Linked DNA regions of Homo sapiens: region 2 is linked to region 1. Evidence: fine-mapped expression QTL. A gene starts in region 1. The other region holds a variant in brackets. All regions are shown on one strand. Distances are between the middles of the regions.

Evidence for each region.
Region 2: its variant is fine-mapped to the expression of LINC01270 in whole blood (TOPMed, PIP 0.98).

Annotation. Positions count from the first base shown.
Region 1 is chr20:50,286,307-50,301,271 of GRCh38, reverse strand. LINC01270 (long intergenic non-protein coding RNA 1270) reads right to left here and starts at 8,552. Exons shown (of 5, transcript NR_034124.1): 1 at 8,442-8,552; 2 at 2,859-3,116. RefSeq lists enhancers at 6,649-7,149, 8,263-8,999.
Region 2 is chr20:50,335,827-50,350,791 of GRCh38, reverse strand. It overlaps LOC105372657 (a long non-coding RNA gene), which reads right to left and starts at 94. Exons shown (of 3, transcript XR_936837.3): 1 at 1-94. RefSeq lists enhancers at 288-337, 11,479-11,678. The variant A/G (reference allele first, on the strand shown) is at 6,783.

The DNA.
Region 1 (14,965 bases):
TACCCATCCATCTATCCACCTACCCATCCATCTATTCTATTATCCACCCTCCCACCCACCAATCCATTCATTTTTCTACCTATCCATTCTCCTATCCATCCATCCATCCATCCATCCTACCCATCCATCTATTCTATTATCCACCCTCCTACCCACCAATCCATTCATTTATCTACCTATCCATTCTCCTATCCACCCACCCACCCATCCATTCATCTATCCATTTACCCATTCTTCTGTCCACTCACTCATCCATCCACCCACTCTTTCATCTATCCATCCAACCATTTGCCCATCCATACACCCACCCATTCACTCATGGAATCACCAATCCATCTACCCATTTATCCCTTTATCTGTTTATTCATCTAGCCATCTATTAAGTCATCCATCACTTTATGTATTAATTCATTCATTTAATTATATATTTATCTATTCATTCATCCATCAGTAATTCACAGTATTCAACAATGAAATCACCCGCTCCATCCATCACACAATTTAAAATCCAGCACTTGTTTATTTATTCAACCATCCATCATCCATCTCTCCATTTATCCACTAATTTCTTCATTCATGTGTTCACTCATCCATTAATTCAATTGTTAATTATCTCATTCATTGATTCATCTATTCTTTCATTGATCTATTTCTTCATCCATTTTATCCATTCATAAACAGTTCCCTTATCTCCACACATGTACCCAGCCATTAAATTATCCATTTGACTATCCACCCATCCATCAAGTCATCACTCATCTTTTCACCCATTAAATGCTCCATCCACCCATTCTGTTCTCTATACCAGAACCAAGAAGTGAATCACGGCTGGCCCTGCCCTTGAGAAGCTCACAATCAAGTGATGGAAACAGACAGCTACAACCCAAGATGGAAAATATTCAGAAGTCAAAGGGAGCTCCAGGCAGGTGCCTTCACAGAAGGGGACTCAGGTCCTTCTAGGGATTCAGAGAAGGCTCCTTGGAGGAAGCAGCATCCAAACAGGACTCATGAAGTCAGAAAAACAGTGAACAAACTCCCTTAGATATCCCAGAGGGTAACTCACAGGACCTAACCACCTAGATGCTCATTGAGCTCTTTGGAGCATCCAAGACTGAGAACACCTGTGGCAAATGTTCACCCAGGAATTCCCAAACCCAATGGCTAATGGAACACTTTCCCCCTTGTCACTCCTATTAGTACCCCCAGAGACTCTGTGTCCCTCAGATCTGTGTCCTCAAAATGGATAAATGATAAAATAGATTTGGGAAATGCTAGTCTGGTCCAAACTTCTTGTTTCCACAAAGAAGAAAACAAAGTTCCACAAAACATCTCTGACCTCAAAAATTGTGTTCATCTGTAGATAAGATGCAATGCACAATATATGCCCAAAGACTCCACGTTTTTTTTCTTCAGACGGAGTCTTGCTCTGTCAGCAGGCTGGAGTGCAGTGGTGCGATCTCGGCTCACTGCAACCTCCGCCTCCCGGGGTCAAGAGATTCTCCTGCCTCAGCCTCCCAAGTATCTGGAACTACAGGTGCGTGCCACTATGCCCAGTTAATTTTTTGTATTTTAGTAGAGACGGGGTTTCACCATGTTGGCCAGGATGGTCTCGATCTCCTGACCTCGTGATCTGCCCTCCTCGGCCTCCCAAAGTGCTGGGATTACCGGCGTCAGCCACCGTGACCGGCCTCCATTTTTTTTTTTAACCTGCAGAGCTGAGCATAGTGTGTGGCACACAGTAGGTGCCCAATAAGTATTTATCAAAAGAATGTGGCCCTTGTTGAAGGAGTCACTCCAAAATGGCCTTGGCTTTTAAGCTGTCCCTACTGCGCAGTGACCCCTGTGTGGCCTTAGCCAATGCCACAACTCCCAGCCTCAGTTTTTCTGTCTGGGAAATGGGCAATAAGGTCATCTCAGCAAAGATTGATGCAGGAAGCGCATGCTTAGACTCGACTTTGGTTGCAGGCTTTGTCTCAGGATGTAACTCACCGCCACTTTCTCACCCTGGCTAGTTGGGTTTCTAGCCAGCGATGAAGACCTAGAGGCATCTGAGCCACACTGAACCTTCGAGGTTGAGGCTGGTACCTGGAAACCGCCTGAGTAATCCCACTGTGTTCCTGCCCAGCCTGATGGGGCATGAACTGGAAATTCCCTATAATATTTGCTCATTAAATGATTCCTCCCCTCCTCCTGCTTTTTCCTCCTGCCTCCCACTCTCCCTTAGCCAGCTCCCAAAGCGCCTGCAGTAATCTCTGCAAAGGAGTCCAACTGGTTTGGGGAGGGCTGGGTGGCCACTTCTTCCTGCCTCCCACCTGCCCACCCGCTGCCGGAGCCCAGGCCTCTGCCTGCCGGGGTGCGTGGGCTGTGCAGTTCTAGAACACAGCGCCGAATGCCCACGCAAGATAAAGGGACCACTAGCGCCTCCTCAGCCCAGGCCCAGCCCTTGTGCAATCCAGATCTTTGCTCCTCAGAGACAGCCATGGGGATGAGCAGATATGCTTATCTGATGGGGCCACGAGGCCTCCAGATGATTCCAGGGGCTGTTTTTTCTTAATCCGGCTTTGGGCTCCTCACTGCCATGCAAATGTGCCCGCTGTTCCCCCATTTGGGCATGTCCTCATCCTCCTTCCCGTCAGTCAACACTTATTAGGCACTTCCTGTGTGCCCAGCCCTGTGCTGAGTGCTGGGGACGCAGAGGTAAATATGACAAAGTCCTCGCCCCATGGAACTCACAGTCTGAGGGGGACAGGGCAGATACATAAAAAAAGAGAATGGTCACAGGAACGTGGGTAACTCTCAAAATCATAATGTTGAGGAAAAGAAGCCCAGTAAAGAATACACCACATGATTCCACTTACAGAAAATTGTAGAGAACGCAAACTAATCCACAGCCGCAGAAAGCAGATCAGCCACAGTCGGCAGGCGATGGGAGTGTGGATGGGGCGGCCGGGAGGGATGAATGACAAAAAGACACAAGGACACCCTTGGGGGCGATGGATATGTCTGCTGTCTTGATTGTGCTGGTGGTTTCGGAAGTGTGTGCATATGTCCAAACTCATCCACATGAACACTGGAATATGCGCAGTTTATCGTGTGTTTGTTACACCCCAGTAAAGCTGTTGAGAAGAAAAAAAGGGAGATAATTGAGAGACAGTGTGAGCAGTGCAGCAAAGGTGAAACTCAGGAAGGTCATGGGAGGGTGGATGGAGAGGGTAGTCAGGGAAGGCTTCCTGGAGAAGGCAACTGTTGAGCAAAGTTTTGAAAATGAAAACAAGTCACATAAGGAATGAAGAAAAGAGAGTGGTGTTAGATTCCAGATGGCCTGAGCTCAAATCCTGACTCAGTGGATTCACAAAAAGCTGTGTGTCTTTAACTTCAGCTCTCTGAGACTCAGTTTCCTCATCTGTAAAATGGATCTCCTATTTACCTGATAGGACTGGTGGGAGATTGAAATTAGGGAAAGCCCTCCGCCCGACATCCAATGCTCACAGCATCTGCAAACGCCCTGAGGTAGGAGAGGAACAACAGGGAGGAAGTCTGTGGTTGCAGCAGAGAGAGGAAGGGGAGAATCAGGGGGTGGGAGGGAAGGCCCCAGGGACCAGGGCTACAGGATGTGCGGGCCATGGTGAGGGCTAGAGCTGTCTCTTAGCACTGGGGAACCAAGCGAGGCCTGGATAAATGCAGGAGAATTTTATCAACAAAGTTGTCCTTTTAATGAGGTCACTCTGATTATTACAAAAAACAATTTTACAGTCGGGAAAACTGAGGCTTGAGCTAAGGATTGTTCCGAGGTCCTGTGGAATCACACAGCTAGAAGGCAAGTGGTCTCCCATCCGCCTGAACCTCTCTGTAATCTCTAAGCAGGTGAAGGGCTGTTATCCAGGTCTATTTGCACACCTCTGGTGATGGGAAACTCACAGTGTTAACAGTTCTTCCTATAGGACCCAATTAACAGAGGCTTCTCAAATTGGACCCAGCTCTTCCCTCTAGCTCTGCCTGGACACCAGCTGCTACCCTGCCAGAGTCCTATTAGGAGGAGCCCGCTGTGGGCGGGGATGAAGTAGGAAGAGATATGAGCTGTGACGGAGGCTTTCTGGGTGCTGCCCCCAGCACTCTGCCACAAGAACCCAGGACATACCCATTCCTTCTCTGGGCTTCAGTTTCCCCATCTGTAAAAGGAGAGATGCTCATTGCTCTCAGAAGCAGACTTGGCCCTGCCGAGGGGCCTGGCAGGGGGTGGGGCAGGCATGGGGTTCACCAGTATCACCCGTCCACCCCCGTCTTGGGGGCCAGGGCCCTGTCTGGATATAAAGGCCGGTGCCCTGGGGTGCAGCCGGCTTAATAACAGGTTCCAGGATCCAGGAGGGGTTTGAACCCAGGAGAATAGGTTCAAATACAATTGAGCAGCCCACGTTCCTGTCTGTAGCTCTGAAAGCCAATCGTTCCCACACCCAGAGGGCCCGGTCCCGGCTCTCATCAAACCCATTCACCCCAGTGGAGCCCCCATCTGTGTACCTACCATGTGCCAACCTTCCCACTGCGCTCAGAAGATGCACACTCCTGACTTTGGCCATGAGCTCTGGACCTGCCCCGGCCCCCAGTCCCCTCCTCACTCGCCCCTTCACACAGGCCAAGCTGAGCCCTGCATCGAGGCCTTTGCACTTGCCATTCCTCCTGCCCAGAACTCTCTTCCTGCAGATCTTGCCATGGCGGCTCGTCCTCCAGGCCTCCAGCCAAGCTCACCTTCCAGTGAGGCCTCTGACCCCATCCTATTGATCCCTGTCAGCCCCCTGCCTTGTTTTTCTCCATCAAAGTCTTCACTGGGATGTCCTGATCCTCTGCCTGGCGTCTGTCTGTCCCTGGATTTGGAGCTCTTAGACGGCAGAGTCTAGGGCTGCCCTGGGACTGGCTCTGACATCACCAGGTCCAGGCTGGACCCAGCCTGGTACCCACCTCACAGTGTAGGTTAAAGAACAAATGAAACGGGCATGGGAGATTTTGCACCCACCTGGGGGACCATCAATGCTTCATCTACACAGACCCTCTCATCTCCACACACAGGCCAGGGGGATGCATAGACCTGGACACAGATTCACTGCATCCCGCCCCCTCCAAAACACCCTGACACACACGTGTGCACACACACGCGCCCCCCGTGCCCACCTCCCCTGGCCTCCACACCAGTGCTTGGCACCCAGACCTCTCAACTTTCCCTCCTTTCACTGGGCGCCAGCTGGCCCTTCGCCAGCTCCTCTCCCCAGCCTGCCCGCCTGCCCTGGGCACCAGACTTATAAAGGACGAGGAAGGGCCTGGGGTGGGCTGGCTGGGTGCCATGTGAATGCGGCCCCTGGGGCCTTCGCTTCCCCCCGCTGCCAGACACCTGTGTAATGAGTGTCATTACTGGGGACCCGTTGGGCAGGCCCCAGCTCGCCGCAGCCACCCAGGCTGCACATGATGCTGGGGACAGGGTGCAGGGAGCGTGAGGGGCAGGGGTGCTGGGGGCGTCTCTGCTCTTGCCAACCCCAAAGCTCAGCTCTGGGTTTCTGGATCAGCAAAGACGACTTCCCGCCTTCCACGCAGATTCCAAACCTCAGGCCCTTAAGTCCCCTATGGGCTAAGGTCCAAGATGGACTCGGAAGGAGACAAAGGAGGAGAAACACTTATTGAGCACCTACTGTATGCCTACTTGTTGCTAAGAGCTGGTCACTTTTACTTCCCACTGTCAGACACTGTCTCATCCACTCACCCCTCTTCTGTTTGCTTATTGCACATCTCAGCTCATTCAAGCACAATTGAGCACCTACTATGTACCAGGCTGTGTGCTAAACACATTACATATATTAACTCATTTGTCCTTTCAGCAATCCTATGACGTGGCATCTTACAGGTAGGATGCAAAGAGGTAAAGTGTCTCACCCAAAACCACACAGCAAATAAGCAGTGGGCCAGGAGTTAACCCAAGGCCCCTGGCTCCAATGTCTGTGTTCTTAACCACTCACTGCTTTACACTACCTCTTCCATCAGCCCTACAAGGGCAGGGATTTTTGTCACTGCTGTGTCCCCAGCACCCAGCCCAGGACCTGGCATATAGGAAGCGCTAAAAAAAATCCAAGGAATAAATGAGTGGACGAATGAGCGAATGATCTCACTGAGTTCTGAGAATATCTTTCCAGGTGGTATTTATGGATGAGGACACAGAGGCTCAGAGAGGTAAAGTGACTTGCCCCAAGTCACACAGGGAGTGTGTCACAGCACTGAGATTGGAACTAGGATGGGAGGTCTGCCCCTCCGCCCTCCTGCCCCCCATGGCCCTAATCTCTCCAGACAGTCCCTGCCCCTGGACTGTGGGCCACATGAGGGCAGACGTGTGCCTGTCCCTGGGCAGTCCTGGGATCCAGCCTGGGGTCTGCACGCGGTGGAAGGCAATTCCAGCTCCTCCCCTTGGCCCCAAGGCCTTCTGAAAGGGAGACCCTGACAATAACACTTCCTCACCCGGTCACTTTCCTGACTCCCAAGCAGTGATGAATTTCCCAGACAACGCCTGCACCTCACCGCCACCTCTGGGCCTGTCTGTGTGCTGCTTCCCCTACTGGGAACGCTCTCCCAGCCCTTCTGCCCCAGCCACAGCTTGGAGGTCACCTCCTCCGCCAGGAAGCCATCCAGGCAGCCCCACAGCCCACAGCTCTCGGGGCTGCAGGGATGAATGTGGGACCCTCTCCTCCACGGCCTGTGTTCTGGCTTCTGGCTTCTCCGGGGGAGTTGAACTCCCTCGATTCTCATGCCTGTCCAGCCACTGACCTTCTAGGGGAAGCTGGCTCGGGCCTCACTGAGCTCATCTGTGAGATGGGTAGAAGTTCTGAATGCGATCTCAGGCAGTCTTGCCATCTCTCACATAGGCTCCTGCCCAAGTCCCAGCCGCGGCTGCTCACTCAGCCCACCAAGCCCTGCATGGTCCAACCCCTGCTGGCCCTCCAGCACCATGTCCTGCTGCTGTCCCCTCCTCACACCCCTTCAGCCTCCTTGCCTTTCCTGGAACTTCCCAAACCCATTCCCACCCTCAGGGCCTTTGCACGTGCTGTGGTGAGTTTCCCTCTGCTGGAAATCTCTTCCCCAGGTCTGGTCCTTCTTCTCCTTCAGGCATCTGCTCCACATCACCGCCTCAGAAAAGCCCTCTCTGACCCACTCAGCTCCCAAACACCCCTGCTGATTCCCATCACGGCCCTTCTCTCTGGTGAAATCCTCTCGCCTCTTCAAGCATTTGCTCACCGATGTTTATCTCCTCCATCCTCTCCTCCACCATAGTGAGGGCAGAGACCTTGTTCACTGCTGGGTCCCCTGGAGCCTGGCATACAGTAGGTGCTCAAGCAGTGGTGGTGGAATGAAGGGAAGAACATCAAAGTGCTGCCCCACCCCTGCCCACCACCGGCCCCCAGCCCAAAATCAGGGAGTGGGAACCAGGAGGCCCCACTCCCGCCAGCAGCAGGCGCCCCCTCTGAGCCCGAGCCTGTCTGGTTCCCAGGCCCATAAAAACCACCGCCCTCACCTTGCCCTGGGGCGGCAAAGGGTGAAGGAGGAAGCTGTGGGGTTCAGAGATTGAACTGTCATGGATTCAGAGGCCTGGGCCAATGAAAGTCAGTGTTCACAGAGTGCCTTCTGCGTGTCCAGGTGCAGTTGAGACACCCCACACTCACAGCCCTCACTGCAGTTCTGCAAGATCAGGACCACCACGATCACCCTTCACAGGTGAGGAAACTGACGCACGGTAGGGTGCAGCCACGTGCTCCAGGCTGTGCAGCCTGAGAAAGGTGAAGTCAGCATTGGAACCCAGCTCCGCCCGACACCGCAGCCAGCATTGCTCTCATCCATGGCAGTGCACGGAGACCATGTCGGTGCCAGCTATGTGCCAGGTGCTGGTTCAGAGCACAGGTCCTGGAGCCAGACTGCTCAGTGCGTTAGGCAGGTGACTCAGCCCCTCTGTGCCTCAGTTTCTCCAGCTGTGAAACAGTCCACATGGCACCTCCCTTGTCGGCTGCTGAGGAGACGAAAGGAAATTATTTCCAGTCAAACAGAGTGCTCTTGTTGCATGCCCTTGGGAGAATTCATTCCCGCTCTGAGCCTCAGTTTCCCCATCTATCATATGGGGATTAAACTACGCCACTGTGTTGCATCGCTGCGAGACTAACGTGACGTATTTGCACAGTGCCTCCCGCACAGTGGACGTTTACTCAGAGCTCACTGTTCATTCACTCCAGTCCTGCAGGCCTCACTGTCCCCATCTGTAATCCCAGAAGGCAGCCCTGATCACCCAAGACGGCTGCTAAGTCCCTAGTGCAAAGGTCGAGGGGTCCCAGGGCAGCCCTGACAACTGGGGATATCCTGGGGGTGGGGAGGACAGCTGAGTGGCCGGGATCAGGAAGCTGCAGGGGGCCCAGGTGACTCACCCGCTGGCGGGGCTTGGGGGCTGGGCTGCGGCCCCCACGCACCCCTCTGGGCCCTGCCTTGTGCCCAAAAGTGCTGTGTCATGCTCCGTCATGTGGCTCCGGGTCATTAATACCCGAGTTCTGGGAAGCTTGGGCCGAGTTCCCGGAAGGGGTCAGCCAGTTCAGTAAACAGATTGGCTGGTTCGTCGTCACAGCTGAGCCGGGCGGGCCTGCAGCTCAAGAGGCAGGAGATGGAGGCTGGTGGCCAAGGGGACACAGGAACTGCCCCCGGCCCCATTCGGGGCTGGCACCTCCCAGGGCAGCCTGGCCCAGGCTCTGCAGATGAAAGGAGAAACCAAGGCCCAGAGAGGGCAAGGCAGTTGCCAGAGATCACACAGCAGGTCCGGGGCGCGGACCTAGAATTCTGGTCTTATCATCCAGTGCTCTCAGCATCACTCTGACTGATGGGCAGGGGGGGACAAATCACCTCAAATTGTAACCTAAGCCCCCCAAGCCCCCAAATCCTAACCTGGACCCTAAGGCCAGTGTGTTGGATGAAGGGAGAAATAAATGGAAGGCAACTTGGGAAGGAAGCAACTTTGAGGGGTTACTGGGCTGTCCCCTGTGGTCGATCCTATAATCATAGTAACTGCTTCTAGTGTTTCTTGAGCATCTATTATGTACAGGGCATTACCATAAGTGCCTTCCATAAATCCACCCATTTAATATTCAGCCACCTTTATACGAATAAACACAGGCATCACGTTTAAAGCATCCACTGAGTGCCAGGCACTGAGCTGGGTGATTGACATACACCACCCGGGATCCTCTGCGGACCTTGCCAGGGAGGCATCGCCGTCACCCCTGTTCATCAGATGAGGAAACAGATGCCCAGGAGGGCGAGCAGCTGAGGTGTATGGTGGGAGAACAGCAGGCTCCAGAGTCGACTAGACCCAGGGATTCAAATCTTTACTTTTACCCTTCCTGCTGTATGGCCTCAGGCAAGTGACTCCACCTCTCAGAGCCTCAGTTTACCCATCTGGTAAATGGGGATGATTATGGTACTGGAAACACTGGAGCCAGACTTGGTGGGAGCTCGTGAGTGTCATGATAGGGCAGTGGCTGGAGTGCAGACTTTTGGGTTGAATCTTGCTGTGCCCCTTCTTGGCTGTGTAACCTCGGGCATGCCGCTTAGCCTCTCTGGGACTCAGTGTCCTCTGTAAAATGGACATAGCACCTCCCTCATGCGGCAGGTGGGAAGAATGAATGAGCAGAAATCCCCGCAGCCTTCTGTGCGAGGCCAGGTATTCTGCAGCCACTGAACGCAGGTGACTTGTTCTTATATTTCACCTATGATGGCTCCACTGGGACTGGGGTGAGGGGAAGGACACTAGACCATGGGCAGAAGGACAAGGCACCCACATTCTTTGCTGCCCTTTTGCACCCACAAACAATCTGGAAAGGGAAGCTCAGCCTTGCCTGCCTCCTTGAGGGTCGGGGCTGAGGCTTGGCGTGAATGGTTGCCATGGCATCCTCCCCACCTCCCCACCAGCCACTCTGCCTTGCTATGGACTCCACGTTCCTCCCCTACTTAAAACCCTCTAGGGCTCCCCATTCCTCTTCTCGTGTACTACTCCCCAGTTTGGCTGAGCCCCAGACAGGCCTTATCATGGCTCTTTGGTTCTTGGCACCCCAGCCCCAGCCCCCTTGGTACAAACTCTCACACTCATCATTCCCACCTCACCCTTGTGCACACACAGGGCCCTTCACCCGGCATGCCCTCACTTTCCCTAACCCACCTGCCTGGTCTGGATTTCACCCACCCTTCAACGCACGTATTCAAAACCTCCTCCTCCAGGGAGACTGCCCTGATCCTCCCCTTTGAAAGCGAACTCTTTCTAGACTCTCTCTATATATATACCTCACTTACGTCTTTCTATCATTATATATCAACTATTTTTGTCCACCACCTCAAATTTTGGCAGCTGTGAGGTAGAAAATTTGCACAAGGGAGATTTTGGGGAAAAAATATTGCCTCTAAAATACTTAAAGAAATCTGCTGGCCAGGTGTGGTGGCTCACTACTGTAATCCCAGCACTTTGGGAGGCCGAGGCAGGTGGATCACTTGCAGTCAGGAGTTGGAGACCAGCCTGGCCAACATGGTGAAACCCTGTCTCTATCAAAAAATACAAAACTTAGCCAGGTGTGGTGGTGCATGCCTGTAGTCCCAGCTACTCAGGAGGCCGATGTGGGAGAATCACTTGAACCCGGGATGTGGAGGTTGCAGTGAGCTGAGATTGTACCACTGCACTCCAGCCTGCTAGGCGCGACCCTGTCTCAAAAAAAAGAAAAAGAAAAACCTGCTAAGTTGAAATTTTAAAATCTTTAATTAACCCACTCACACTTTATAATTCTATATTAAATTTCTAATTTAATATTTACAAAAATATTACAAAAATTTTCGAGGCGTTTGTAAACAATCTGCGAGTGAGAATGTTTCTTGTTGGGCAAGCGTTCCCTGGTGTACGCAGGGTTGCCAAGAACCCGAAGTAAGTGGTAAAATAAACGCGCTGCTTGTTGCCACACAATTTCAGAAGTGAAGTTACTAATATTATTGAAGTGTTTGGGTGATTTTTCCAACCCTCTTTTGGGTCCAGTCTGACCTTCCGTGTCCGTGTATTCCCCATCATCCTCATCAACCCGTCTCCTTCAACTCTTTTTCCAGTTCCCCGTCTTCTTACCTCCCTCCACCTGGAAAACAGTCTTCCATATTCCCGCCACACATGCTCGCTCACACTCCTCCGCCCCCTGCAATGCCCTCTCCTCTTTTTTGTGGGAATCTGACCCTTCTTCACAGTTGAGTCCAAGCACCACCTCTCCAAGTCACCCCGTCCAGCCCCGATCCAGGACCATCTGCCAGGCTCGGAGGCAGCTGTGCTAACTCTCCCCGCCAGCTCCTTACCTGCAAAATAGAAGGGCTGCAGTATCACAGAGGCCTCAAACTCACGGCCTTCAGGCCAAACCTGGCCTGATATTTGCCCTAACATTTAAATATCAACAGGTTTCATATAGCAATCTAGATCAAGCTTGTCCAACCCGCGAACAACAGGCCACATGTGGCCCAGGATGGCTATGAATACGGCCCCACACAAATTCATAATGTTTCTTAAAACATGAGATTTTGTTTGCGATTTTTTCTTTTTAGCTCATCAGCTATCGTTAGTGTTAGTGTATTTTATGTGTGGCCCAGGGAAGCCAAAAGGTTGGACACCCCGATCTAGATTTACAGCTTCTCATGAAAAACTGTCAGTCCCGGCTTCCCACGGGGCGACACTGGCAGAAACTGAGCAGCGTCCACCCCTTTAGACAGGCCTGCACCCCTCTCCCACCACTTCACCATGAGTGCTGCTTGCCCAGCCCTGGCAGCACCTGAGTTTGGCTTTTTTCAGTCTCAGAATCCCTTCTTTTATTTTATTCTAATTTTTATTATTATTTATTTATTTTCTTTTAGAGACAGGGTTTCGCCATGTTGCCCAGGCTAGTCTCTAACTCTTAGGCTCACACAATCCTCCCATCTCAGCCTCCCAGAGTGCTGGGATTACAGGCATGAGCTATCGCGCCTGGCTGTGAGGCTGCCTTTTGGAACCAGTCCTCCAATGAGGCTGATCCTCTGACTCCCTTGAAAAAGCATCTTAGAGTCTCCTGGTCTGCTGGCAAGGAAAGGCCGCCTGCCCACTTGTTCCCATCTGCACCGGTAGAAGAGACCCTTCCCCAGTGTACATCCTCTGGACACTTAAATTCTTTGAAGCACAGTGTGAAAAACTCAGCACCCCCTGAGGCCAGGTTGTGACCACGCCAGGTTCTGGGCCCTGCCCTAGACCTATGAAGTTGGCCCCTCAAACCAGTTCCCCATCTCAGCAAACGATAGCGCCTGCATCCACCTATCCACTCCAACATCTCCCTCGCCCAATCCAACAAATCCTGCTGGCTTTGCCTTCCAAACAGAATCCAGTCCCTTCTCCCACCTCTGCTGCCATCGCCCTCCTTTTGTCCTAGACTAGGGGAGTCATCTCTGCTGGGTTCTCTGCTCTCATCACAACATCCTGGCCCCCCACAGTCCACTTGCCCCATTTGCAGCCAGAGAGATCCTGCACCCAGGACACATTCCGCAATGTCTGGAAATAATTTTAGTTGTCACAGCTGGGTTTGGGGAGGAGGTGCGACTGGCAACCTCTCCAGTGGGCAGAGGCCGGGGACGCTGCTTAACATCCTACACTGCACAAGACGACCCCACTACAGAGCAGCATCCAGCCCCAAATGTTAATGGTGCCGAAGCTGAGGAACCTGGTGTTAGAACCTGAGTCAGGCCATCTCCCTCCTGTGCCCAGAGCCCTCCAATGCTCCCGCCTCACTTGCAATAAAATTCAAACTCCTCCTCCTCCTGAGGCCCTCAGGGCCTGGATGATCTCTGGCTCTCCTTCACTTTCCCCCACAATGCAAGCTTGTTCCAACCTCAGGGCCTTTGCATCTGCTTTTCCTACGATCTGGAATGCTCTGTCCCAGACATCTGTGTGGCCAGCCCCTTCAATTCCTGCAGACTCAGCCCCTTTTCCCAGTGGTCTCACTATGGGACATGCTATGTCTTTCACTTATTTGTCATTTCTTTGCTGTCTCCCCCTCCCAAAACCTAAGAGCCATAAAGTCAAAGGGTTAGTCCATTTTGTTTCCTGCTGTCTCCCTAGTACTTTAGCACATACTAGATGCTCAATAAATGCTTCCCAAACAAGCACATGACTTGGTCTACCAGGTCTCCTGTGCATTTGAATTTTAGAGTTGCAAAGGTTTAGTCTGCTGAGGGCTGGTGATTCCTTCGTCCTGGAGGAAAAAATTCAGTAGTTCCAGGACTCCATGATCTGAAGCATCTGAAGCATCCATGGAGCTTCCATTTGAGGCCCAGAGCATTGCCCAGGGGTCTCACCCAAGGCCTCGCTTAAAGAGGGGATGACAAGTAGGTGAAAGAGAAGGTGAGGCAGGGGCTGAGCCAGGAGTTTGGGAAGGCTGAGGCCACAGGTGGTGGTGGGTGACAGAGCTCAGCTTGCATGGGTCCCAGGGCTTCACAGCCATCAGGACTCCAGGAGTGCAGCACCAGCCTGCAGATCGCCATGCCCTTTGCAGCATGAGACACACCCAGGGAGGCGCTGGGAGGGGGCTTCTGGAGACCTCCGGCCACAGCTCAGAAAATAAAGATGGACAATTTGGCTCAGGAAAAAGCCATGTAAAGTGAGTTATTCACCAAGAACCAGAGCCAAAGCATCATAATGAAGAATGACCTTAGAGAATGGCCGGACGCAGTGGCTCATGCCTGTAATCCCAGCACTTTGGGAGGCTGAGGCAGCCAGATCACGAGGTCAGGAGATCGAGACCATCCTGGCTAACACAGTGAAACCCCGTCTCTACTAAAAATACAAAAAAAAAATTAGCCCGGCGTGGCGGCATGCGCCTGTAGTGCCAGCTACTTGGGAGGCTGAGGCAGGAGAATGGCGTGAACCCGTGAGGCGGAGCTTGCAGTGAGCCGAGATTGTGCCACTGCACTCCAGCCTGGGCAACAGAGCAAGACTCTGTCTTAAAAAAAAAAAAAAGAATGACCTTAGAGAGATTTGACTAGGTCACTGTCTTGCCACGTGGGGGATAAAAATTGTGAAAATAAATTGATTTTCTCTTTGACCTAACACAATTATCATATAATTGCTGTGGTGCACACAGATTCTTAGAATGAACACACTAAAGCAAGCGTGGATACATTTAAACATATTTAAACCAAATTGCATGACTGCACAATGCAGTGTTCTTTTCATTGTACTTGACATTCCTGACATAATCACGGGGAGGGTCATTTCTGCAAAATGATTCCATCTGCACTGTGGCCACCGCTGAGCCCTGGTCACTGCCCCCAGAACTGGCCCACTGCAGCTTCTGGAAAAATAGCCGGGCTGCAGCCCCACCCACCCCAGAACGGAGTCCTAAGCAATCAGCCCCCAACATTTCCAACTTCTGATTCATAAATCTGGCATGGCTGCATGTGATTGGTGGGCCCTGGTCACATGTCCATACCCAAGCTTTGGAGGAGCAGCCCTCAGCCCCCTGGCTGGGGACCTGGCTTCCTCCTCCGCCCCCACTCCTTGGCCCCACACCTGGCTCCTACCGCCCAGCGCACATCCCTGGAGGCGTCGGCCTCGCGTCTTCGGTTTTTAAATGACCAAAGAAGTATCGTGCCCCATTTTAGAAATGAATGATAAGACAGGCAGGATATGTGTTATGACTTTTAACAACTAAGGGGCTAATTTCCCCCACTACGAAGGCGGTCTCAAACAAGACAGACCCTCCATGGAAGAGAAAGCATAGAAACAAAAGTGAATTGGGAACAACTAGGCGCCTTGGGAAGGCGAACATGGATGAAGCAGATGTCATCTCTTCTGAGCTGCGAACAGGAGACACACCGAGGTTCAGAGAATGAGAGTGACTGAGATGAGGAGGAAGAAGGAGAG
Region 2 (14,965 bases), 50 kb before region 1:
TCTGACCTCCCCGCCCTGTGGTTTTGGTTTTTGGTTTTTTGCAGAGACAGAGTCTTGCTGTGTTGCTCAGGCTGGTCTTGAACTCCTGACCTCAAGCGACACCCCCATGTTTGCCTCCCAAAGTGCTGGGATTACAGTGTGACCCACTGCACCTGGCAGTCCTGTGCCTTCTGTGACATCACATGGTCTGTGAGGTCCCTGGGTCTTTCTCACATCCTCACACTGCGGTGGGCAGCCCGAGATGCAGGTCTCTTTCTTAAAGAATTGTGTTTGAGCAAAAAAGCCCACAGAAGTCACCATCTTTCCACCTCAGGATCTCATACAGTTCTGATAATTATAGGTACAGGGAAGTCTCAATTTCAAATGTTCAAGTCCTAAATGGATTGATTGTGTTCACTGGACTACAAGTTCCAGGGGGGAGGGGACCTTACCTGTTTGTTCACTCCCATGTCCCTCGTAAGAAGAACCTTCCAGGCACAAGGTATCTACTATGGAAACATGTGTCTGATGAATGGATGGAGCTGGTGATACATTTATTTATTTTTATTTTTATTTTTTTGAGACGGAGTTTCACTCTTCTTGCCCAGGCTGGAGTGCAATGGTGTGATCTCAGCTCACCGCAACCTCCATCTCCTGGGTACAAGTGATTCTCCTGCTTCAGCCTCTGGAGTAACTGGGATTACAGGTGTCTGCCACCACGCCTGGCTAATTTTTTTTTTTTTTTTTTGTATTTTTAGTAGAGACGGGGTTTCACCATGTTGGCCAGGCTGGTCTCGAATTCCTGACCTCAGGTGATCCGCCCACCTTGGCCTCCCAAGCTGGTGATACATTTAAAAATAGAGTTTCCAATCTTTTTTTTTCATAACTTTTTTTCAAAACTTTTTTTTCAGCAAAGGTGTTTTGCTAAATGTCTAACCAAACATGCTTGAATGTATCCACCCTATTGCTTAGCTTCAGATCACGACTCCTTCTTCCCTTATAAGCAAGTTACTCACCTTCTCTGGGACTCAGTCTCCTCATCTAGGAAATGGGGACAAGCATGTACCTACCTGAAAGTCAGTGCAGGTACCTGTAAAGCTCTCAGGACACTGTAGGAATTAGTGGCTATATTCATTATTATTATTATTATTTGTTTTCATCTGAGAGCCAGGCCAGGGGTTTGGGGGACAAAGGTGAATCAGGTTGCTAGCTCTGGGTGACTCAGATTCTCGCCTGCATCATGGAGAGTTCACAAGAAGGGTCATGGTGTCCCCTGAGAAATGACAAGGAACCAACTGGTCTATGAACGTGAGGGGAAGTGACTGAATGGTGGTTAGCCTGAGCTGGAAAATGCACACTCGGTTGAGTTGCTCAATCCATCCGGTGACAGCAAGGCCCTCGGGTACACTGGGGGAGCCAGGTACATGCTCAGGGCCCAGTGTAGAGGGGCTGGGCCTGAATGGCAGAGGGGATCCCCGCAGCCTAGAGCTGGAGGCTCCCAACCCCTGGAGACATGGGGGCCTTTGGAAGGAGGAGGCATGAATGCTGCCTCGGCTGTTTTTGGCTTAACGCTGAGGTGTCCCTCAGCCTCCCACCTGCCCAGAGAAGAAAGTCATGTTTTTTAAAAGATGGAGATCCGGCCGGGTGTGGTGGCTCACGCCTGTAATCCCAGCACTTTGGGAGGCTGAGGCCGGTGGATCATTTGAGGTCAGGAGTTTGAGACCAGCCTGTCCAACACGGTGAAACCTCGTCTCCACTAAAAATACAAAAATTAGCTGGGTGTGGTGGCAGACGCCTGTAGTCCCAGCTACTCAGGAGGCTGAGACATGAGAATTGCTTGAACCCGGGAGGCAGAGGTTGCAGTGAGCCGAGATCGTGCCATTGCACTCTAGCCTGGGCAACAAGAGCGAAACTCCGTCTCAAAAAAAAAAAAAGATGGAGATCCTGGGATTACCCCCAGACATCGGGAGCTTCTCGGGGGCTCAAGCTTCTGGCAGTTTCTTTACTTGCTTTGGTTGAATTCTTCATTTCCACCCAGGTCTCACCCCTCCAGGCTGCCAGTCTCTTTCTGCACAGGCCACACATATGGGGCCTGCTTGAACCCGGGAGGTAGAGGTTGCAGTGAGCCAAGATCGCGCCATTGCACTCCAGCCTGGGCAACAAGAGCGAAACTGTCTCAAAAAAAAAAAAAAAAAAAAAAAAAAAAAAACCACAGAACATTATTCAGCCTTCAAAAAGAAGAAAACCTGGATTATACAAAGTGAAATAAACCTCTATCTCGAAGAGCAAGGAAACCTTTCCCAGAAGCCTCTAACAAATTTCTCAACACATCTCATTGGCTAAAATCACATTCCATGTCCAGCCTAAATCAATCACTGGCCTTGTTGGGGTGGGGGACACTGTGGCTGACTTAGAGCAACGGGAATCAGTCCCCTGAGGCTTGGCTGAGGCCCATCTTCCTGGAGCCCATGGGAGGGGTGGGGGCAGGGATTTCTTGTGCAAAATGAGCAAAATAGGTTCTGTTAGGAAGGAGGAAGTGGGGGGATGGCTGAAACGGGAATAGCTCATTGCCGCTATCAGCATATCTGCTTCTTGCTGTCGGGACCTACTGAACTGCCTCCGTTTCTGGGTTGTTTTGAACTGACTCTTCCGCTTTCTCATAAATTCTGTAAGCTCACTCATGTTCCTCTAATAAATTTCCTTCCCACTTAAGTCAGCCAAATCTGGATCTCACTGAGGCCCCAAATTTCCTCAGTGATCATCTTTAGCATCATCGTCACCGAACCATCTTTGCTGATATTTATTGAGCACTTGCTATGTGCCAGGTCCTGTGAGACACACTTTGCTTACAGCAGATATTCTCAACCAGGGGGTGATTTTGCCCTGCAAGGAATGTTTGGCAACGTCTGGAGATATGTGTGGCTGTCACAACTCAGGGAAGGAGGTGCTACTGGCATCTAGCGGGTAGTGAGGCCAGGGACACTGCTAAACAAGTCCTGCAATGCATGGGACAGCCCCCAACCAGGAGTTATTTGGCACTAAATGTCAGTAGAACACAGACTGGGCAACTCGCTCCTAACCAAACCTGGCGTATTTCACAGAGAAGCAGCCAGTCCAGAATGCCCGAGGGCCCAGGTTGAGAAAGCTTGCCTTGCACTGTCAAGCAGTGAATGGCCGAGAAGCATCTGCTGTGTGCCTGTCCATGCTGAACAGTAGTGGGGCTGAGGGCCCAGCCTTAGCCCCTGGGAACTCGAGCCCATTTTAGTCCTTTAGGTTATTCCACTTGCTCTTTTCCTTATTCCAAAAGGAGCTTGAGGCAACCAGAACCAGCGATCATTGCTCATATTGCCCATGAGTGAGAAAAGAAACTAGCTCTGTGGAGGAAGAGACGCCTCCCCCAGCTTTGGATATTCAAAGGGGTTCCTCATGAGAGAATTTCGCATGGGGTCATGGCAGTGCGGACAGTAAGGTGATGAGATGTATATTCAGAAGGCTCAGCTATTTGTCAGGATTTCTTGTAGCTGCAGGCAATGGAAACCCAACCCAAGGTGGGTTTTAAAAAGGGAGAATGAGAGAGCCATGTCTGCTTCAGATACAGCTGGATCCAGGAGCACCGCTGACGATTTTCGTCTGGGGGCTGTCTGCGCCTCTTGGCTCTGCTTTGCCCCATGTCACTGGCATTCTCAGGCGGTCTCTGTTTCTCAGGGTGGCACAGTGCCTCAGCTGCTCCAGGCTGACATCCTACAACGAGCTCAGCCACCTCAAGGCGGCAACGTCTTTCCCATTCCAAAGTCGCCGGTTTAATTTCTTGGCCCTGATTGGATCGTGTGCTTACCCCTGAACCAATCCATGTGGCCAGGGGCCTGACTGGCCAGGCCTGCAGCCCTGAGGATGGATGGGGTCAACTCTCCTAATTCACAAGACCAAGGGGGTGGAGGCACCACAGGGGAAACTCAACGTGGTCTCCAGAAGAAGGGACACATGTGCTGGGTGGCCCCAGACCCGCGCAAATACAGCATCCTCACCAGCTCAGCCAGCGAATCTAACAAGGACCTACTTTGAGCCTGGCGCCAAGCCCAGAAATGAATCTGGCAACTTCCTGCCCTCTGGGAGGAAAAGAAGATATAAATAAGTGCAATTCAAAGCACTGTGTGATGTGTCCTGAAAGAAAGAAACAAACAAAAGGCTACAGACACGAGAGGTTGGCTGAGAAAGGGCACTGGGCTGGCAGGAATGGCTTGAGCAAGGGTAAGGAGGTGGGAGGGGCCAGGTGTGTTCGAAAAACTAGGGGTCATCCTCGTGGCTGGCGACGTGGGGAACGAAGCTGCAGAGGGCAGTTGGGGTAGATGGAGCAGGACCAGGCTCACCCAGCCGGGCCGTTTGGACTTTCTCCAGGTCGCAGCGGGGAGCCATTGATGGTTTTAGAGCAGAGCAGAAGCAAGATCTGGAGTTGCACTTTCTGAAGATGAACTCAGCCGTTGTGGAAGGGGAAGGGCTGGGACAGGGAGAGACTGAAAGGGACAATTGAGCAGCTGTCACAACTGTCCCAGGACAGATACTGGACATCAGAACCAGGGCAAAGGTAGGGCAGAGGTCTTTTCATTGTCTCCGAGGGCTGGGCACATAGTAGGTGCTCAATAAATGTGGGGTGGAGAGAGGAATGGGAGAAGAGGCCTGAACCTTGGCAGCTGCAGGAGGGGAGGGCCGATACCAAGTTTATCCAGTTACGCTGAGCAAAGCCCCCACACCACAGTGGGTCCTCAAGGAAGCCATGGCTACCCTGGTCAGCCCCCAACCTGCTTCTCCTGTGCAGCTGCTGACAACTGCAGCATGTCCCAGCCAGGGATGGGAGTCTGGAAGAAAAGCAGGAAGGAAGTGAGAGGACAGAGCAGGTTGTTCTCCGCCTGGGCCTGGATTCCCCCTGCAGCTCCTGACCCTTCTCAGGAAACCAGGATGCCAGGTGCCAATGGGACACCAGAAGCAATGACCATGCAGCAGAGGACTGGACATGATGACCTTGGGAGGTCAGCACACCACCCACTGATCTCTGAGGCCGAGGCCCCTCCTTTCATTCTTTCTTAGAAATATTTATGCTCAGGAAGCTGCTTCCTTGACAAACCCGCTGGGCTTCCTAAATATTCACCAACGACTCGTTGTACCATTGGCAGGACATTTTTGCCAGAGCTGCCAACTGTATTTACCGACAGAGGGACTGGGAAGATCTGGGGCAGTGGGGTGGTCAGGGGGAATATATATATAGGGGAATATACAGAGGAGAGTCCTGAGAGAGCAGAGACCATCGAAGCCTCTGGATCAGCTGTGGTCAGGTGGGGAAACCGGGTCACTGATCCCTCATAAGGCTTGAAACCAGCAGCTCATAGCACCTGCCAGAGTCTCCCTATTTTCAGAGACCAATATAAAAGATGTCTGGCCCAGAGTGGGCTGAGCAGGTCCTGAAGGCAAGAAGGATGTGCAGAAAAGGAGATGGGACACCCATTCCTAATCAGGATTGACTGGGCTGTCCTGCTTCCAAGTGCCTACTCCCAACTTAATGACAACAGCAGACACCTCCATTCCACCCACTACGTGCCAGGCTGTGTTCCCATATGTCACATGTATTACCTGGTTCTTGCAACAAAATAGTCCTGAGCACCAACTATGTGCAGGACCCTGTTCTAGACACTACTCATGAACAAAAAACCCAAAATGCCGTGGAACGGACACTCCAGTGTCATCGGAAGTAAATACAAGATGTAGTATGCTAGAAGGTGATGAGTGTTTTGGAGAAAAATAAAGCAGGGATAGGAGATGCGGCTGTCACAGGTGGGATCTAGTGGCACAGCACTTTGGAGGTAATGATGAACAAGCACTCCCATTTGGCCAATGAGGTCACTGGGGTGCAGAGAGGCTAAGTGATTTGCCCAAGGTCACACAGCTACAGAGGCAGGATTCGAACCCAAGTCATCTGGCTCCAGAGTCCTGGTTCCTGACCTGACGAGGACTCCAGGTTCTCTGACTTTAGCACAGGCGTCACCAGAGCCTCAAGATGCAGAGCGACTTGCAGAGGAGCAGGCAGCCAAGATGGAGGAGGTGGAGGGTTGGCTTTAGCATTGGGCCAGCTCCCAGGCTGCAGGCCTTGGGAGGCATTTCTCCTCCCTGGGCCTCAGTTTCCACCTCTGCAAAATGGGGAAGTTGCAACCCCTGCCATGGAGTGGGGGTTCCTTGAGGTGGCGCTGTGGAACTGCTTCCTAACACTGGCCACAGCGACTCCCAACACCTCTCAGGCTTGCCCTACAACCCATTTTTCACCTGCAGCCAAAGGCGTTGCCATGAAACAGACCATGTCATGGTCCCATCCAGATCCTCTGATGGCTGCCCCTCACTTTGGACTCTGGCCTGCAGGTGGCCCCTGGTGTCCTCTCACCTCCACTCACTTCACTGCGGCCACCCAGCCTCCTGGCTGCTCTTGCAGATCTGCCAACTCCATCCTGCCCCCCAGCTTGGGCACCCACCATTCCCTCTGCCTGAAGCCCCCTCCCTCACCTATCAGCCACGAATGGAACTCAGCCCGCACTCTGAAACAGAGGCTTTCTTGCCCCCTTGGGATCAAGATGCTCCACAGACAGACCCCGAGGGAGATGGAGACACAAGCAGAGGGACAGGCTGAGACATACATGGGCACGCAAACCAAAGGTGCTCAGAGCCACACGTGGTCCAGAGGTACAGAGAGACACACGGTGCCAGACGTAAAGTCACAGCCACAGCCACGCCCAGGGAGACACATGGAAGCCCCAAGCCACAAG[A/G]CTATTCAGACACACTGGCCATGGGTGTGCAAGACGTGCATGGGCACACTCAGATAGACACACATGCCCTCACCCCACACACACGTGCACAGGCACACCCAGGGAGCCGCAGCCAGCACCAACGTGGCCCAGAACACCCAGCCACACACATGCACACACACACTTCCCTCTGGCGCCCGGAACAGCCCCGTGCCAAGCGTCCTAGGACAAGGACCGCCTGCAGCCAGCCTTGGCGGGAAGGTGTCCTGGCAAACAATACCTCCCCTCTCCCACCGTCGGCACAGACACAAGGAGCCATTGTCAGCCTGGCACACACCGCGGGGCGGCCTCTCCACAGGCCCTCCTGGCGGGCATGCCTGCACGTGGGGGCGGAAGGCTGGCGGCTCCCCAGGCCCACCTGCTCCCATCTGCCCACCAGGGACCCTGCCTCCTTCAGAGCCTCCTGCCTGGTCCTGCAGACCCTGGAGGGCTTAGCTCCCTGGCCCACTTTCCCTCCCCAACCCCTTGGGACTTACGCATCCTCCTCACAGAGCGGCCAGGGCTTACGAGGGGCAGGGTTTGGTGGCTGAAAACGTGAAATCTAGATTCAAACACACATGCCGTGTGACCTTGGGCAAGTCACTTCCTGTCTCTGAGACTTGGTTTCCTCATCTGTAACATGGGATAATGCTAGCACCTCCCTCACAGGGCCGGTGGCATAACGATTTGAGCCACAGCATACACAACACTGAGGCAGCAGGTGCACCCTGGGATCTGGTAGGCCCAGGCTCCGGCGACAGCCTTGCCATTCTCTTGCTAGGCCTCGGGCAGTTGACATCACCTCTCTTCCCCTCAGTCTTCTCACCTTGAAAGTGGGGATGGTCGTTGGCCCCCCTTTCAGAGGTGTTCCTTCTGTAAGACTCTCACATGGAGGGTTTAGGATGAGCCTGCCACACAGTAGGCACTCAATCAATGCTGGCCATGATCATTGTCTTAATGGCCTGAGGCTTGCTTATTCACTTATTCTTTCTTTTCATTCCTTTCACCAGTCTTTCCTGCGTACCTACCACATGTTGTAAGCTGAGCAGTTCACCCTAAGTTGCTCCCTCCCCCTATGCCCCAATGGGCTCCTGTTAGATGTTTGTTGACTGACTGAATGACAGGAGGCAATTCAGAGACCATCACTACCTCCAGGCAGCACAAGGACACTGACTGAGTGGTCAGGAGCCCTGGGTCAGCCTCTTAACGGCTTGCGATGCCCGGTCAGGAACACAGATCCCTGCTCCACAGCAAGGACGTCATGAAGATTAGGCAGGGTGGAAAAAAGAAAGTGCCACTCAGTGAACACCTACAATGCCAGGGCCACCCTGCCAGCAGTGCCACAATCTTTTCAGGACCTGCCCCTGTGCAGACGGCACCTGTTTGAGCAGCCACACCCCTCTGCATCCCTCTCACCATGCTCCGGCTCATTTAATCCGAAAGTGCTCATCAGCTGCTGGCTTCACGGTTTGAGTTCATTGGCTTGTCCTATTTGGTGTCTGTGCCCCCGGACCAGGGTCCCTCGACCTTGGCTTGACTGACATTTGGGGCCAGATCATTCTGCACCTGAAGGCTGCCCTGGGCTTTGTAGGATTGGTTCAGCAGCCTCCTTGGCCTCTCCCCACTAGATGCTGATAGCACCCTCCCTCCACCCAGCTGTGACAACCACACACATCTCCAGACATAACCAAGTGTCCCATGGGGAACAAAACCACCTCTAGCTGAGAACCAGAGGGCAGAGATTTTGATTTGTTTGGTTTCTTGCTGTATGTCCCTGTGTATACAGTAAGTATCAATACATATTTGTCGAGTGAATCTTGAACAGATGCATCTCACCGACTCACGCTGTTCCCCTTTGCTGGAACGCTTTTCCACTGCCCTTTTCTGGCGCACTCCTACTCATACTTCAAGACCCTGGCAAGGAAATGATATGAGGAAAGTGGGGCATGCAGGGACTGGGTGAACAGGAAAGTACCTACTATGTGCCACTAAGAAAGGGCCTCCCGCAACCCCACTCCCAGGCCTCCTGTGTCCAGTAGGAATGTGGGCCCAGTATGGCCACATCTTCCCATTTTTCAAGAGAAGCCAGAGAAAAGGACTTTATGTGAAATCTCCTGGCATGTCAGATGTTGGCAATTGATTCACATTAAAAAAAAATACTTTAAGGACCAAACTAAACATATCTCCAGAGTGGACCTGTCCCATGGGCAGCTGTCATGGAGGTCTGCTCTAGGAGGCTTGATGGGTACGAACACCTTTGAGGATAACGAAGCTGAAGCAGTTCTTCCTGGCGTCTCACTTGCGTGCCCTCTGTTGTAGCCATTGTGGGAGGGGTTCTCATACAGCTGGGGCAGCTCTGATGGGGGACAGAAGGGCAGAGGTAGCGCCCCCAGCTCTGAGCCGCACCCACAGGCAACACCCAGCCCACCCCAGACCAGCTCCTTGCCCAGCTCAGCCCAGAGTCCAGGGTGGATGGAGTGTGGGGAGGACTCATCATGGGGGCTGTGAGAAGCCTGTTTATGGCTCCAAAATTCCTATGCCCCAGGCCTAGGGGAAATTAGTGCTCGTATGAGGCTGTTCACCTCCAAACTCCTTGGCCTCTCCAAGAAATTAAAAACAGGGAAACCGAGGCAGGACTGAGCTTCATGGAGACCTGGGCCTGCAGGCCTGGGCAGGCTTGGAGGCAGCCAGGAGGCTGACTTCTCTGGAAAGTCCCTTGTATTCGAGAACTGGCGGGGTGCCGGGGAGCGAGGACACCAGGGGTCTCCTAGTCTCAGAGCCTTCTGCCGGATCCAGGAGCTCCTCAAGCGTCTGCCCTTTCTGGGACAGAACTTTCCAGCAACAGAAAGTTGAGGAAGCCCCTCTCTGGAAACCCTGAGCCTCCTTGATGGGGCTTGCATTCTGCTTTGGGGCAGAATGTGGGACTGTGGGACAGGAGGACGGGGCGTGAACCCCAGTCCTAAGCCCAGATGTCGGCTGGAGATCCTCAAAGCCAGGGCCTCTTCTCAAGAGTCTGATGGCCCCACCAGCCATTTCTCTCACCCAGACCCCAAGTCAGACTGGACACTGTCACCATTGTCCTGGAGGCCAAGAGACCCGCAGACCAGAATTCAAAGCCTTGCCCCGCTGCGGGCTGAGACAGTCGCTTGGGCTCTGTGGTCTCATTCCTGCATCTGTAAAATGCATCCTTCCATTGTAGGAATTCAACAAGCACATGACATGGGGCTGGTGCTGGGCAGAGGAGAGAAGAAGTGACAGTGAGCACGCACCCTGGGCTGGTGCTGAACCCGCCACACACGTCCTTCTTCCCTTCTCACCACAAAACCCTGCATCTGTTCATTCAATGCTGGATGAGTGCCCCCTATGTGCCAGGCTCTGAGATTTAATGGAGGACAGTGGAGAACTGGCCTCTGCCTGCTGGGAGCTTACAGTCTGGCCAATGGGGAGTTATGAACCCCCTAAATTATTGTGTCAAGTAGTGGTCAGTGTTATGGGAAAACATTCACGCAGGGTGAAGAGGTAAGGCCAGGGGAGCAATTTGGAAGGGCCGGGGGTCAGAGCAGGACCCCCGGGGTCATTTAAGCAGACACCCAGATCAGGAGAGGGAAGAAGCCCTGTGGCTATCTGGAGGAAGGATGCTGAAGGCAGCGGAAACAGTGTGTGCAAAAGCCCCGAGGTAGGCGTGTGCTTAGCATGTTGGAGGAACAAAGAGGAGCCCAGTGTGGCAGGGGTAGAGGGAACCAGAGAGAGTGAGTAAGAGGAGATGGGCCAGGCGCGGTGACTCACACCTGTAATCCCAAGCACTTTGGAAGGCCAAGGTGGGCAGATCACTTGAGCTCAGGAGTTCGAGACCAGCCTGGGCAACATGGCAAAACCCCATCTCTACTACAAAAAATACAAAAATTAGCTGGCCGTGGAGGCATGTGTCTGTAGTCCTACCTATCTGGGAGGCTGAGGTGAGAGGATGACTTGAGCCCAGGAGGTTGAGGCTGTAGTGAGATGTGTTGGCACCACTGCACTCCAGCCTGGGTGACAAAGTGAGACCCTGTCTTAAAAAAAAAAAAAAAAAAAGAGACAGAGAGAGAGAGATGAGGTTATAAGGGAAGCATGGGAAAGATCTTGTAGGGCCTGGTAGGCCACAGAGATCTTTGACTTTCTGCCAAGTGAGGTGGGAGCCGTGGGAGGGTTTTGAGCACAGGAAGGTCATGTCCTGACCTCCTATACTCATCCTCATCTTAAAGGTGAGGAAACTGAGTCTCAGAGAGGTGAAGTTACCCACCCAAGGTCACACAGCCAGCAAGTGGCAGAGCTGGAGTTTGCCCCCACATCCCTGTGGCTCCCAAAGCCAGCCTCTTCCCATCCCATCAGCTGCCTCTGTGTCTGGCGTGAGTCAGGAGGCTGGATTGCTGGGAGGGGGAGAGCTTTTTAGAGCTGCTTTTTGGAGCCTCCTGGCTCTGCCTGGCACATCCCCTCCTTCCCCACCCATGCCTTCTCCCTTGCCCTCAGCCACCCCCAGCTGCCTGCGGTGAGTGCCTAACATTTAAGGCTATCCCCTCCCAAGTGCAGATTGGATTTTTTTCTTTCCATAAGTCCCCATTATGCCCCAGTAGACTGGATTTTGGGCAATAGAAAAAACGAGCCTAAAGAACTCCAGCGCTAATTGGGGGTGACAGGCAGGGGCTCGGGGCCTCTGGAGCAGCCTGGCTCTGTCTCTAATTTGCAGAGTGGCCAGGGTAAGTCCCTGGCTTCCAAAGTCATGCTTGTTTGAAGGACAATCACTTTCTTTTTCTTGTAAAAGGAAGATAAATTGTCAGCCTGTCGGTTTCATTATGAGCTCGTCCGCTGTCTTTCCAGTAACTGAGGGCGAGAGGCTGAGCCGCTGCCCAGAGGCTGCCTGTGAGGCCTTGGGGGCTGTGGTTGATGCCACCTGGCCTCCTTCGCATCACCTCCCTCTCAACACCCCTCCCACCCCCTCCAATAATTGTGGTATTTGGTTTTCCCTCAACACCAAATGTGAAACTCTCCTGGAGGGAGTGCAAAAGGAAGTCTGTGAATCTCTGAACTGTGGTTGAATGAAGGTATTCTTAGGCGCCTGCTTGCAAGGATGGTGAACTTCTGGTGCTAAAAGCAGAATTGCTTTTCAGTAAATGTTATTACTCAAAAGGAAGTTGTTACCACCACAGCCACCTCGAGCCTCTTCCAACTGCCACTCTGTCTGCCAGGCCAAGTGGGGAAAGGGTCTCTCAGTGGCTCCCAATGACCCCATCCAGCCCCCAGGGGAAGGTCTTGCTATCTCAGCTGACCCTGGAGGCCTGAAGCTGAAGTGCAAACAACCACAGTCTGCCTAGGCAGAGTATCTCAAGGTAGGGGCTGTTTGCTGACTCAGCATTTAAAAGTCCCAAAGCTTGAGTGATCTTGGCTGAGCTGGGCTGGAGCTACAGGTGGGGTTGGGGGCACACAAGAAAGCTGCCCGTTGGCTGCAAGGTTGGCTGTTTTTTGAGAGCTGTTGTCCATCTTGGCAATGCACCTTGCCTAACCCCTATTTCCTCTTCTCTAAAATGGAAAGGTGATCATACCTCAATGGAAAGAGCTAGCATATTGATTACTCTAGTAGATACTTAATAAGTGGTGAGGTTATTATCAACAGTGAAAATGATTCTGGATTTAAATCAGACAGACCAGGGCTCAGATCTCAGCTCTGCCACCTACTAGTTGCACAACCTTGGACAAGTCCATTCCCCTCACCAAGTCTCGGTTTTCTCTGGATCACGCAGGAGTGATTATAGCACCTACTGCTCAAAGTTGTTGGGAGAATTCCGTGAGCTGCAGCACGTAAGTCACAAGGCACACAATAGGTATGCAGTAGGCATGGGTTCCACTCCTGCTCCATTTTGCCTTACAGAGGATCACCCCCCAGGCTGTGTCCCCACCTGAGCAGTCCCAACCACAGGCTCCAGGTGGAGAGACACCCATGAAAGTTTGCACCCACCGGGGTCCAGAGGGCAGACAAGAAGCGACCAGGCCAAACTCAGGGGAGTGGAATGGACCACTCAGCAGACACTTCCCTGCAAGAAAGAAGTCAAAACAAACCCCCTGGCTGGTGAGACATGATCCCAATCTAGAGCTCTCAGAGGATGCTCTCGGGTCCAATCCTCTGCCTGCCTCTACCTGTAGCCTTTTCTACAGCCCGGAAAAGTGGCAATTTCATTTACTGGGCAGCCACTGCAAGTGAGCATTGTGCTCTGCATGTCTCATGAATCACGTCATCGTGTCCCCCCAGCAACCCCACGAGACAGTTCCTCTCATTGCTCAGCACCTGCAGGTGTGGAAACTGAGGCCCAAGGAGGTGAAGGGACTGGTAGCTGAGATTTGAACCCAGCCCATCCCATTGTCAAGTCACACACATAATCACCGCACTACTTCCGTTATCTGAGAACAGTGTGTCTGTGTTACCAAAGATATAATTATATTTAGTAGTGTCTGGGTATAGAAAATTGTATAATATATTCTTTTTAAAATGTATTCTTTTGAGATTATTATAGATTTACATGCAGTTGTAAGAAATAAACAGAGAGAGTCCATATACCCTTTCCAGTTTCCCCCAATGTTAACAGTCACAATAAAGATATTGACAGTGATATAGTCAAGATACAGACATTTCTATCACCACGAGGATCCCTCATTGCCCTTGTATAACCAAACCCATCTCCCACCCCCAACCCTGCCCCCGAGCCATGGCAACCACTAATCTGTTCTCCATTTCTATAATTGTGTGGTTTCAAGAATGTTACATAAATGGAATCATATAGTTTATGTAACCTTTGAGGACTGGTTTTTTTCACTCAGCATAATTCTCTGAAGATTTATTCAAATTGTGTGTTATCAATATTTTATTCCTTTGTATTGCAAGTAGCAGTCCATAGTATGGATATAACACAGCTTTTTTTAGTTAAAAAAAACCATAGACAGGCTTCCGGGTGGTTTACCAGTTTTTGCCTATTATGAAGAGAGCTGCTATGAAGATTTGAGCATAAGTTTTTGCACAAACATAAGTTTTCATTTTTATGTCCAGGATTGCAACTGCCAAGTCATAAGGCAGTTTTTAAAAAACTGTTTTCCAGAATACGGTACCGTTTTACATTCCCATCAGGAATGTATGAGTGTTCTAGTGTCTCCATTCCTCACCAGTGATTGAATGCGAAAGTTCCCATCGTTTTTTATTTTGGTCATTCTGATAGGTGTGTAGCAATATCCGATTGTGGCCTTAATTTGCATTTCCCTAATGGCTAATGATGTTGAACATTTTTTCATGTGTTTATTTCCATCTGCATGTTCTTTTCAGTGAAATATTTGTTTGTGTCTTTTGCTCATTTTCTATTTGGATTTTTTTAACTGCTGACTTTTGAGAGTTCTCGAGAATTCCGTCAAGTTTTAAGAATTCTAGGTACTAGTTCTTTGTCAGATATGCAGTTTGCAAATATATTCTCCTAATCTGTAGCTTGTCTTTTCCTCCTCTTAATTGGGCCTCTCATGGGTTAAAAGTTTTCAACTTTGATGAGGTCCGATTTATCAATTTTTTTCCTTTTATGAATTGTGCTTTTGGTTTTCACATCTAGTAATTCTTTGCCTAGCCTTAGATTCTGAAGACTGATTTTCTCCTGCTTTTTTCTAAATGTTTTATAGCTTTATGTTTTATCTTTAAGTCTATGATCCATTTTGAGTGAAGTTTTGTATAACGTGTGAGGTTTAGGTCAATGTGCTTTGTTTCTTGCGTGTGGATGTCAAATTGCCCCAGCACGATCTGTTGAAAAGGCTTTTTATCTTCCATTGAACTGCTTTTGCATCTTTGTCAAAAATCTTTTGGGCACATTTGTGCGTGTCTATTCTTGGGTTCTCTACTCTGTTCCACTGTTGCATGCATCTGTCCCTCTGCCAACCAGACTGTCTTGATTACCACAGCTGAACAGTAAACCTTAGCATTGCATCAAATGAGCCCTCCCACCTATAGAAAATTGTATATTGTATTTTAATTCATTGAGAAGTGAGGTGGCAAATCTCTGTCCTTCAACTTATTTATTTAAAGAGAGAATAATATTTTCCACGGAGGTAGGGTGGCCGAGCGGTCTAAGGCACTGTATTAAGACTCCAGTCTCTTCAGAGGCATG